3 linked regions of the Homo sapiens genome follow. The protein of the gene in region 1 interacts with the protein of each later gene in a biochemical or structural test. Each region holds a gene or a part of one and is shown in the gene's direction. Other genes may lie near its edges.

Evidence for each region. The genes of interacting proteins can lie anywhere in the genome.
Region 2: the proteins of ARFRP1 (region 1) and CYTH1 form a complex in vitro, tested with the Homo sapiens proteins (one study listed by BioGRID).
Region 3: the proteins of ARFRP1 (region 1) and VANGL2 form a complex in vitro, tested with the Homo sapiens proteins (one study listed by BioGRID).

The regions. Positions count from the first base shown.
Region 1 is NC_000020.11:63,698,147-63,701,848, reverse strand, and holds the end of ARFRP1 (ADP-ribosylation factor-related protein 1), read left to right. Parts: coding exon 1-19; intron 20-1,146; coding exon 1,147-1,247; coding exon of another isoform or gene 1,248-1,251; exon of another isoform or gene 1,252-1,318; coding exon 1,319-1,406; 3' UTR 1,407-3,202; downstream 3,203-3,702. Other genes in the region: TNFRSF6B (tumor necrosis factor receptor superfamily member 6B precursor), read right to left, coding at 3,286-3,569. UniProt on the Homo sapiens protein: Trans-Golgi-associated GTPase that regulates protein sorting. Controls the targeting of ARL1 and its effector to the trans-Golgi. Required for the lipidation of chylomicrons in the intestine and required for VLDL lipidation in the liver.
Region 2 is NC_000017.11:78,702,222-78,706,008, reverse strand, and holds part of CYTH1 (cytohesin-1), read left to right. Parts: intron 1-3,404; coding exon 3,405-3,471; intron 3,472-3,768; coding exon 3,769-3,787. UniProt on the Homo sapiens protein: Promotes guanine-nucleotide exchange on ARF1, ARF5 and ARF6. Promotes the activation of ARF factors through replacement of GDP with GTP.
Region 3 is NC_000001.11:160,424,329-160,426,918, forward strand, and holds part of VANGL2 (vang-like protein 2), read left to right. Parts: intron 1-789; coding exon 790-1,050; 3' UTR 1,051-2,590. UniProt on the Homo sapiens protein: Involved in the control of early morphogenesis and patterning of both axial midline structures and the development of neural plate. Plays a role in the regulation of planar cell polarity, particularly in the orientation of stereociliary bundles in the cochlea.

The DNA.
Region 1 (3,702 bases):
CAACAAGCAGGATGTGGAGGTGAGCCCCACCCCTGCCTCCCGCAGCAGCTTCCCGAGTCCCCAGCCTCCCCCACAGCAAGGGGAGCAGGTGTGCACCCAGACACCCCAGGCCCAGTGACTGCCCAGGGGGTACAGAGCCATTCTCAAGGCCTGCCCTGCCCCCAGCAGCTTCCCAAGCCTGGTTCCTCTCCAGACCTGCTGCTGCCAGCCCTGGAGGTTCTCCCACCTCAGGGCAGGCGCCCAGAGGCCTCTTCCTGCTATGCAGGGCACCTCTCCCCAGGAGGGCGGCCGTGTCTCAGGAGTGTGTGGCCAAGCTGTGGGGACACCCAGGTGAAACTCAGAGCTCAAAGAAGTGATGCTGGGGCCCTGGTGGGAGTCAGCTCTGACCCTTACCTGTTCCTGCTACCCTTGGAGGTGGCATCTGTGCCAGCCCCACCCCCAGGGCAGCCCCTCAAGACCCCTCTGAGGTGCCACTGCCCCCGGGAGCACTGGCCACGCTGAGTTCTAGCTGTTCTCTTGGAGTGGCTTTGCACAGAAGCAGCCCGGCGTCCAGAGGGCCAGGTGAATCTTCACTTCCTGCCTTCTCTGGGGTGGCTCTGTTGCCCCCAGCCTGTAAGGCTGGCCTCCCCTACAATCTCAGCCGACAAGAGGGACATCTGGTACGGGGCAGGGGTCTCCCCTCGGAGGAAAAGGGGAGGGGAGGGCTGCTTTTTGAAGACTGGGCAGGTGGTTGTGAGCAGAAGCCACCATGACTGCAGACTGCCTCCATCACTGATGCAGGGCTCCCACCTCTCCATCATCCCCGGCTGTGTGGGCCCCTGGGACCTGCCTCCGCCACTGCCCAGGAGGCCTCAGTCCTCAGCGCCCCACCTCGGGGCTCAGGGTGTCCCCCAGGGAGGGGATGGGGGGTGGACTCCTTGGAGCCGTGTGGACGTCTAGTTTGTCTCAGGCACTACCAGCCATGTTCAGCCTCGGGCTGAGCACAGGGTCCTCACTGCTGTGGTCTCTGTGGGAGACACTGGGACCCTGGTGGAGCTCTGGCTGTTTCCCTGGGGTGAAGGGCATACGCCCTTCTGAGAGTCCCGGGCCCACAGGCAGGACAGGGCCAGACGTGGGGGCTGCTCCTCACGGCCTTACCTCCCCCAGACGTGCCTCTCAATCCCTGACATCAAGACGGCCTTCAGCGACTGCACCAGCAAGATCGGCAGGCGAGATTGCCTGACCCAGGCCTGCTCGGCCCTCACAGGGTGAGTGGGGGCTGCACCTGCGGGGGCTTTGGGGACCGAGACCCCCCGCCTCACACCCGCTGTCTTCACAGCAAAGGGGTGCGCGAGGGCATCGAGTGGATGGTGAAGTGTGTCGTGCGGAATGTGCACCGGCCGCCGCGGCAGAGGGACATCACGTAGGCGCAGCCGCGCTGCCGTCGGGACGGCTGGTCCCCTGGTGCTGGAGGAGTGGCCTCCTGTTGGCTCCCATGCTGCTGATCTGGGGGGTGGGTTTGCTTTGCTTTGGGGTTCTTCTATTTACTTTGTTTTCTCGAAGACAAACTTTCCTCTATGTCTGGAAAAGCGTAGGCATCCGGAGGCTTTGGAGGGGAGTCTGGCAGCCCGGCTGGCCCAGGCCCTGCAGCGGCAGCCTTTCCACAGGGCGCAGCGGCGGCCTTTCGAGGCCCTTTCTGGGGGGTCTGAGGGAGACCTGGTTGGGAATTGGGGCTCCAGTGCTCAGGCTGGCTTGGGCTGCATGAGGACAGCCCTGTGGGACCCTCGGGAGACCCCGTGGCTGTCTCCGCCCCATCGAGGAGGAGGCCCGTCAGCCATGGCTGCCATCTGGCTTCTGCCCTGTGACCCCGTGACCCCGTGACCCCGGAAGTGGTCTGGGGCTGATCTTGCCTTGAGGAAGACCCAGGCCATGTTCCCAAAGGCCAGCGGGGGCCCTGGATTGTGATGCAGCCTCGGGACAGGGCTGAGGCCTGCGGGGGAAGACCTATACCCCACGCCTGGGCCTGGCTTCACCTCACCCTAATCCCCCGGGAGGGAGCTGACTGATGCAAAAAGCTGAGGGGGCCTGCTGGGAGTGGCTGTTTTTATGCCCCAGCCCCGCAAGTTGGGGAGTGTTTGTGGGGGTCCAGAGCCCTCCCCCAGCCAGGAGAGAACCTCCCGGAGGGGTTCTCTGTGGGGCCCTGTGTCCCCTGCTCGGGAGTAAGGCTGGTCCTGGGGTCCTCCCTGCACGGACCCCACTGGGCCTGCCGAGTGCTGTGTTCTTCCTCAGTCTGGCTGTGGGCAGGAGCGGCCTGCCCAGTGTCACCCAGGGTGAGTGCAAAATAAAGACGGCGAGTGTGGCTCTGTCCATCCCTTCCCTCCTGGAGGGTGGAGGCTCCTGGCTGTTGGACACGGTGATGGTGTTACTGGGCTGCTCAGGGGCTGGTGGGCAGGTGAGGGGCTCCCCAGGTGGGCCTGGAGAGTCCAGGCACTCCCTTCCTGCGGATGTGGGAAGGACATGGGGTCCTGGGAGGAGCTGCTGGGAAGGGGCATGAGTCAGGGTGGGGGTGGCGCAGCAGCTGCGGGGCTGTGACTCACAGGAGTCGGGCCCTGGAAGTCCCCGCGTCCTCTCCAGGGGACCCTGTGTGTGTTCTGCAGGTTGGTTCCCAGGACCTGGGGGGGACCTCCAGCCCCGGGAACCTGGCCGTGCTGGGGAGGCGAGTGGCTGGTGCAGCCCCCCGGTTGCTCTGGGTGCATCGGGAGGCTTCAGAGCCTGCCCCAGAGAGGGAGAAGCTTCACTTCCCGGAAAGCATGGGAGGCCTGGAGGAGGTCTTTGGCAGGTCCCCTCTCGGGAAATCCCCTGTGAGTTGGGAGTGGGAGGAATTCATAAGTGGGGGGTTAGTGTGGGCCCCGGCGACTAGGGCTGGCCTGAGCCCCATCCTGTTCTTCCAGCAATGATACCCTCCCAGGCCCTGACCCTCGCTGAGCTTCAGGGGCCCCTGCCACGTGCCACAGCCACTGGGGGCAGAGGTGGCACTCCCCACTGATCCTCCCAGGGAGGGTCTGTCTGAGGTAGGGGAAGCCCCGGGCAGCAGTTCTGATGGCAGGCAGCCTGAGGGATCTGGGCACAGCGGGCGGCTCAGGTGTCCCCGGCTGCCCTCCCAGTAGCTGTGCAACTACAACCAGTTTTATGAAAAAGCTTTATAAAAATAAGCTTTAAGAAACCTCATTTCTTCTATTTAAAAAAAAGCCTCTTTCAGTGCAAGTGGGGTGCCAAGGATGTAGAATAAATAAGAGGGGGCCAGGATCAGTGCACAGGGAGGAAGCGCTCACGGACGCTCCGCTCCAGCCCGGGCATCCTGGCCACGCGCAGCGCCTGCAGCAGCCGCACCAGCAGCGCCCCGTCCTGCGCCCCCAGGAGCTCCGTGAGCCGCCGACGCAGCTTCAGCTGCAAGGCCGCGCGGCCCGCCCTTGGTGTCGGACCCCAGCCCTCCGGGGCCTCGAGGGCCTGCAGCAGCCGCTGCAGCCTCTTGATGGAGATGTCCTGGAAAGCCACAAAGTCGATGACGGCACGCTCACACTCCTCAGCTCCTGCAGTGGGGTGGGGAGGCAGCGGTCCGATCATTTCACCCACACACACTGGCGGGGGCTGCCAGGTACCCTGCTTTCTGGGCCCCACTCGGGGGGTTTGCAGGAGAGAGAAATCCCTGTGCAGTGAGCCGTG
Region 2 (3,787 bases), on another chromosome or scaffold:
TCAGGATTCATATTTTGGTACGTTTCCTTTCTGTATATTCCGGTGTCTGCACACACATATTCAGAATTCAGTGTGCCCTTTGTTTTTCTCTTGATTAATTCTCTGTCAGTTACCATAGAACAGCAAGGAAACGCAGACACCAGGAACGTGAGTGCATCCAAAGTACTCAGCCAGTGAATTTGGGAAGACTTGTAACTCATGAACTGCATCTGAAGTTGTGAGTCAGGAAGTAGTCTTTAGGTTATTATTATTTTTTAATCTGGAACTTAAAATGGTTTTCCGGTATCGAAAGCGCCAAGACGGAAGTGATTCTGCACATCCCTGAGGATCCATCCATACGGGTACTCAGGCTCACCCTGCATTTGTTTCTCAAGCAGGCATTACATTTGCTCGGACTTTCTTATAGGAGAGAATTCATGTTTCTCATCGACGATCTGATGCATTTTGTAGGAATGATCCTAAATACTATTTAATCAAGCAGAAATAATATACTCATGTAGTACAGGATTTCACTTTCTGAAATGTATACGCGTCAGTTAACTAAGGCGATCCAGTAGCAGTAAGCTGTTTTCCTTTGGACACCTTAACTGGGGTGTCAGACCTGTGTAGGCTGGGGAAAGCCACTTAGAGAAGTAGCTGCCTAAGGCCTAGAGCTATAGGGGCTCCAAGTGGGGCAGATAGAGAAGTGAGCTGGCTAGCTAATGAAATTAGGGAGCCATCTCTGGTGTGTGTCCCAGGCAGTCATGTGGCACAGACTGTGACTGGCGGATATCTGGGAGTGTGCGTTCTGGTGGCTGCAGGAAAGCCTTTGGTGAGGACTGGACTGAGGCCCAGGAAGCTGAGCATTCCCAGGAGTTTCACCCCTTGCTTCTGTGGGCACCTCTGACGCTGCCTCACCACTTACACTGGAAACCATGAAACAGGCCTTCCTTGTGGTATTTGTTTGGAAATACTGATCAAAGTAATCTTCCTGGATTTAGAAAAAAATGATTAGACAATCATTTTAGTTAAATAGGAATTTCTAGATACCTGGTCATAACCCTTCATTCTGGCTGAAATTAAATGGTGTTTCCCCCATGACTTTGTTTCCTAAGGCAGCTGTTGACAGGGGAGCCCAGATTATCTTACACCTGGAAGTTCTGATACTACTCACAGTTTTCAGGTGTTCCTTTCAAAAGGTCAAAACAGCCTGGATGCGATGACTCATGCCTATAATACCAGCATTTTGGGAGGCCAAGGTAGGAGGATTGCTTGAGGCCAGGAGTTTAAGACCAGCCTGGGTTACATAGCAAGACTCTGTCTCTACAAAATATTTTAAAAAGTAGCCAGTTGTGGTAGTATCTGCTTGTAGTCCTAGTTACTCAGGAGGCTGAGGCCGGAGGATCACTTGAGCTCAGGAGTTAAAGGTTGCGGTGAGCCACAGTCACACCACTGTACTCCAGCCTGGGTGACAGAGCAAGACCCTGCCTGTAACAAAAACAAAAACACAAAAAACACCAACCCTCAAAACACTTAGGAATATTTTCTTCCCTCCATGGATTTAGCTAGAGAACACATGTGTTCTTTAAGGCAATAACATTTTATGATTTTATTTCCGAGCAACTTTTTTGCTCTCGGAGATTATAAAATTACTATTGATATTGATGGCAGTGGTTCTTAAATTTGGGTGCATACCAGAATTACTGCAGGAGGTTTTAAAAATTCAAATTCCTAGGTTCTGCCCCTTGTACTTCTGAGTTACTCAGCCGGTCCAGGGCCTTGCTACTCAGACTCCACACATGGGATCATGTTAAACATACAGCAGAAGCACAGGCCCCTTCTCAGACATAGAGTCAGAATCTGTTTTGTTGAGGCCCCAGGTGACGTGTATGTATAAACGAGCGGAGCGTCTTCACGTCTGATATGCTCCCAAGGCTGCTGGTTGGTGGACCAGACTTTGAGAAGCTTGGTCTGTGAATCTGCATTTTTCATTCTGATACAGTCAAGAAAACTGCCTATTATTTAGCAACTTCTTAAAAAGTTAAATACAGATGTACCGTATGACCCAGCAGTGTCCACCCCTGGGTATCTACCCAAGGAAAATGAAAACGTGTCCACACAAAGACATATATGCAAATGCTGATAGCAGCCTTCTGCATAATTGTCCCAAACTGTAAACAGCCTAAGTGTCCATCATCTGGTGAATGGATAAACAGATGTGGTTTATCCATACCATGGAAGATGACCCAGCAGCAAGAAGGCATGTAGTACTGGCCCACGCTCCAGCACCATGACCTTGACAACATTATGCTAATGAAAGAAGCCAGATCTGAAAATCCACATCTTTTATGATTCTGTTTGTATGATATGTCCAGAATAGGCAAATCTGTGGAGACAGACAATAGATTAATAGTTGCCTGGGGATGGAGGTAGAAGTAAGGATTAACTGTAAAAAGGTGTGAGGAATTCTGTAGGGGAGATGAAAATGTTCTAAAACTGGATTATGGTGATGTTGCACAACTTAGTAAGTATACTAAAAATTCAAATATGTACCTACAGTAGGAGTATTATAAGTAAATTATACCCTGATAAAGTTTTTTTTTTTTTTTTTTTTTTTTGGAGACGGAGTCTCACTCTGTCACCCGGGCTAGAGTGCAGTGGTGGATCTCCACTCACTCCAACCTCCAACTCCCAAATTCAAGTGATTCTCCTGCTTCAGCCTCCCGAGTAGCTGGGATTACAGGTGCCCACCACCATGCCTGGCTAATTTTTGTATTTTTAGTAGAGACAGGGTTTCACCATGTTGGCTGGGCTGGTCTTGAACTCCTGACCTTGTGATCCACCCACCTCGGCCTCCCAAAGTGCTGGGATTACAGGCATGAGCCACTGTGCCCGGCCTACCCTGATAAAGTTTTTTTAAAAATCATGTTAAAAAAAGAAAACTGGCTGGGTACAGTGGCTTATGCCTGTAATCCCAGCACTTTGGGAGGCTGACGCAGGCAGATCATTTGAGCCCAAGAGTTTGAGACTAGCCTGGGCAACACAGTGAGCATGGTGGCATGCGCCTGTGGTCCCAGCTACTTGGGAGGCTGAGGTGGGAGGATCACTTGAGCCCAGGAGGCAGAGGTTGCAATGAGCCGAGATAGCACCACTGCACTTCAGCCTTCAGACAGAGAGAGACCCTGTCTCAAAAAAAAATAAAGAAAACCTCTGTTCCAGGGTAGAAGGAGCAAATGAGCTTGGAGCTTGGAGCCAGGTTCAGGCTTCAGGTTTCAGTTGGCCTTTCATAGTTCCACCAGATTATGCCTGTTGCTTTCCTGGATAAATCTTTCAAAAACCTGTGTAAATCAGTGGAAATCATATTAGTCTTTCAAGCCTTTCCGATGGCCTGAAGTACTAAAATGGCTGTGATGGTTGTTTTACAGGAAAAACATGCAGAGGAACAAACAGGTAGCCATGGGCAGGAAAAAATTTAATATGGACCCTAAAAAGGTAAGTGAGAAAGAAGCGGGAAGTGGTCCATATTAGATGGGGTTTTTTTATAGTGCTCAGATAGACCCTAAAAACGTTTTTTTCCAAGCGTTACAGTTCATGTTGCCGTTTTGTAGAGCAAATGTTATGCACTAAGCCCTTGTTCCTAAACTGTGACTCCCCGGCTTTATAGGTCACTTAGCAAGTATTTATTAAATATTCCAGTGCACCCACACCCATTTCTTCCTGTGCCCTTTCCCCTTCTTTTCAACTGTTTCCCAGCAAAGCATCATTGGCGTCTTTGTTGTCTTTTTCTAGGGGATCCAGTTCTTAATAG
Region 3 (2,590 bases), on another chromosome or scaffold:
TCTTCTTTCCCACCTTCATTTTCCCTTATTCTCTCACTACTTTCCTCACTGTCCACCTCATTTCTCTCTCCTCACCACCTCCTTTTTATAATCTTCTCTCTCATTCCTATTCCACCTGCCCCATCTGTGTGGGGTGAAGTCTTTAGGTAGATGAGGAGAAGGGAGTCCTCAGGACCATTTTGGGGATGGCTGAGACTTATTTCTCATCTCTATGAGGGCTCCGGAATTACCAGATCCAAAGGCCCACTTTCACCTCCATTACCCTCTTCACCTCCACTAGCTGGTCTTGGCTTTGTGTCATTTTGAGCCATTGCCCACCTTCAACTCTATTGCCAGCTTCCTAGAATTGCTTTCCCTGAGCCACCCTTGGTGAGCAGGTAACTAAAGATGTTGCACTTTAACCTTGACACCTTTGGCTCCCTCCTGGTGCAGACCTGCTTGGCACGAATCATACAAGCTGTGTGGGAAGGAAGGAAGAATGAGGGAGGGCTTGCCCAGGTCACAGCCTGGTGCAGGGAGAAGAGCAGCAGATGGGGGTCAGGGGAGCCGAGTTCAGTCCTACCTGATGAGCCACATCCCCCTGTGCACTCCGGCTTCTTCATTTATAAAATGAGGGTCTGAAGCAGATGATCTCAGGCCCCTTCCTGCTGTAACATTCTGAGGTTCTAGTTCATATGCATAGAGTGAGCTCAGGGACGTCCTTCTTGTCTTTGGAAACTATGACCTAGGGGATGAAGGACCGTGGGTAGATGACAGAGATTCTTATGCAGCCCCTTCTTTCCACTTCAGGCCTTCTTGGAGCGATACTTGGCGGCTGGACCTACCATCCAGTACCACAAGGAACGCTGGCTGGCCAAACAGTGGACATTGGTGAGCGAGGAGCCGGTGACCAACGGCCTCAAGGATGGCATCGTTTTCCTCTTAAAACGCCAGGACTTCAGCCTGGTGGTCAGCACCAAGAAGGTCCCATTCTTCAAACTCTCCGAGGAATTTGTGGATCCCAAGTCACACAAGTTTGTCATGAGGCTGCAGTCTGAGACCTCAGTGTGACTGTGCAACAGCAGGGGGAGTGGGAAACTCTGGGGGGTCCTGAGGGGGTGGGAGGGGGCTTGGTTCTCAGGCCCAGCCACATTCCTGCCACCCTTCTTCTTCTTGCTCTTTTTTTTTTACTTGAATTAACGCACCCCCACCTTCTCTCCTCGCTTCTTCCTTATTTTACCCCATGTGAACCTGGAGAGACCATCCTGCTGTCAACAGTACCTGGGAAGGACTCCCACCTCACCAACAACTTTTGTATTACTCTAGGCCCTGCAGGAATCAGTGCCTCTCTCCCTCTTCTTTCCCTAGTCTTTTCCCAGATTACAGTCTCTCCTGAAAGGGCACAGGGCCCTGCTGATTGTACTTTCCCCTCCTGAGCCCCGACTCACAAATCCAAGTTCTTAAAACATTTCTCTTCAGTGGCCCAACAGGGTTTCTCTGGGGCACATGGACATGACTCCAGAGAGCCACAGTGCCAAACTCCTCCAGGGCAGCAACTGGCCCTCCTGTCCCTCACCCCAGCCACAACAAACCCTGGGTTCTAGGGCAGGGATACTCCTGCCACACAGCCCGAGTTAGAAATCTCCTTGCTAGGAGCATTTGCTTCCACATATATTTAGAGCAAAGAAGGATCCCATCCTTTTCCCAGAAATCTCCACCTAATGTTTTTGGTTTGTATGGTCACGTGACCATAGGCAACCACGTGGAAACCCTCTGTGACCACTTTTCCAGGGACTTAGGGGAAGGTACCTTTCTTCCAATGTGTCTTCCTAGGCAGCCCCTGAGGAGGAGGGCTGAATAGATCCCTGAGGTTTTGGAGAGACCCCCATCACTGACTCCTGCTCCCTAACCCTACCCTCACTTTCGTCCCCGCTCTTCCCAGTGAAGGATGGTATGTAGACTCCTGTACAGACATAGTGGCTTGCAGACCCTGACCCAGCCCCTGTGGTCTTAGACAAATGTTTTTATTTTTGTCACCAGCCACCCCTGTCCTGCCGCCTTCTCTCGACTCCAGAGACCTGTTGCCTCATCTCTTTTGGGGAAGAGCCGGCAGCTCCTCCTCATCCCCTGCCTTAAGTCCAGTTCTTTGCCTCAGGGGTCTCGTTTCCTTGGCCTTCCAGGGTCCCCACCCCTTTTCTCCCTGCCTGATTCTCTGAGCTCTGGGCTCCGTCTGTATTGGGTTGAGGGGCAAGGATTACTGCCTTTTGTAGGTACTTCACCCCTCACCCCATTTTAGCTTCCATAGTCTTTGCACCAAATCCAAATTCTTGATAATTTAGATCTCATTTTGAGCAAAATTTGCTGGCCCTCTAATAAATATTTTCAATATAAATCTGAGCCTTTGACTCAGACATTTTTGCCAAGGAGAGTAGAATTAGGAAGTACCCATATACATCCAGCCAGGATCCACATGGAGGACCTTTCTGATGGCTGCAATGACTAGGCCATTCCTCTGAGTAACTCACAGTGTCCTTTTGTAGGCCCTTCTTTTCCCTGAAAGACTGGTTGGTACTTACCTTGCAGAGCACATCCTGGGATAAGATCCCCAGTG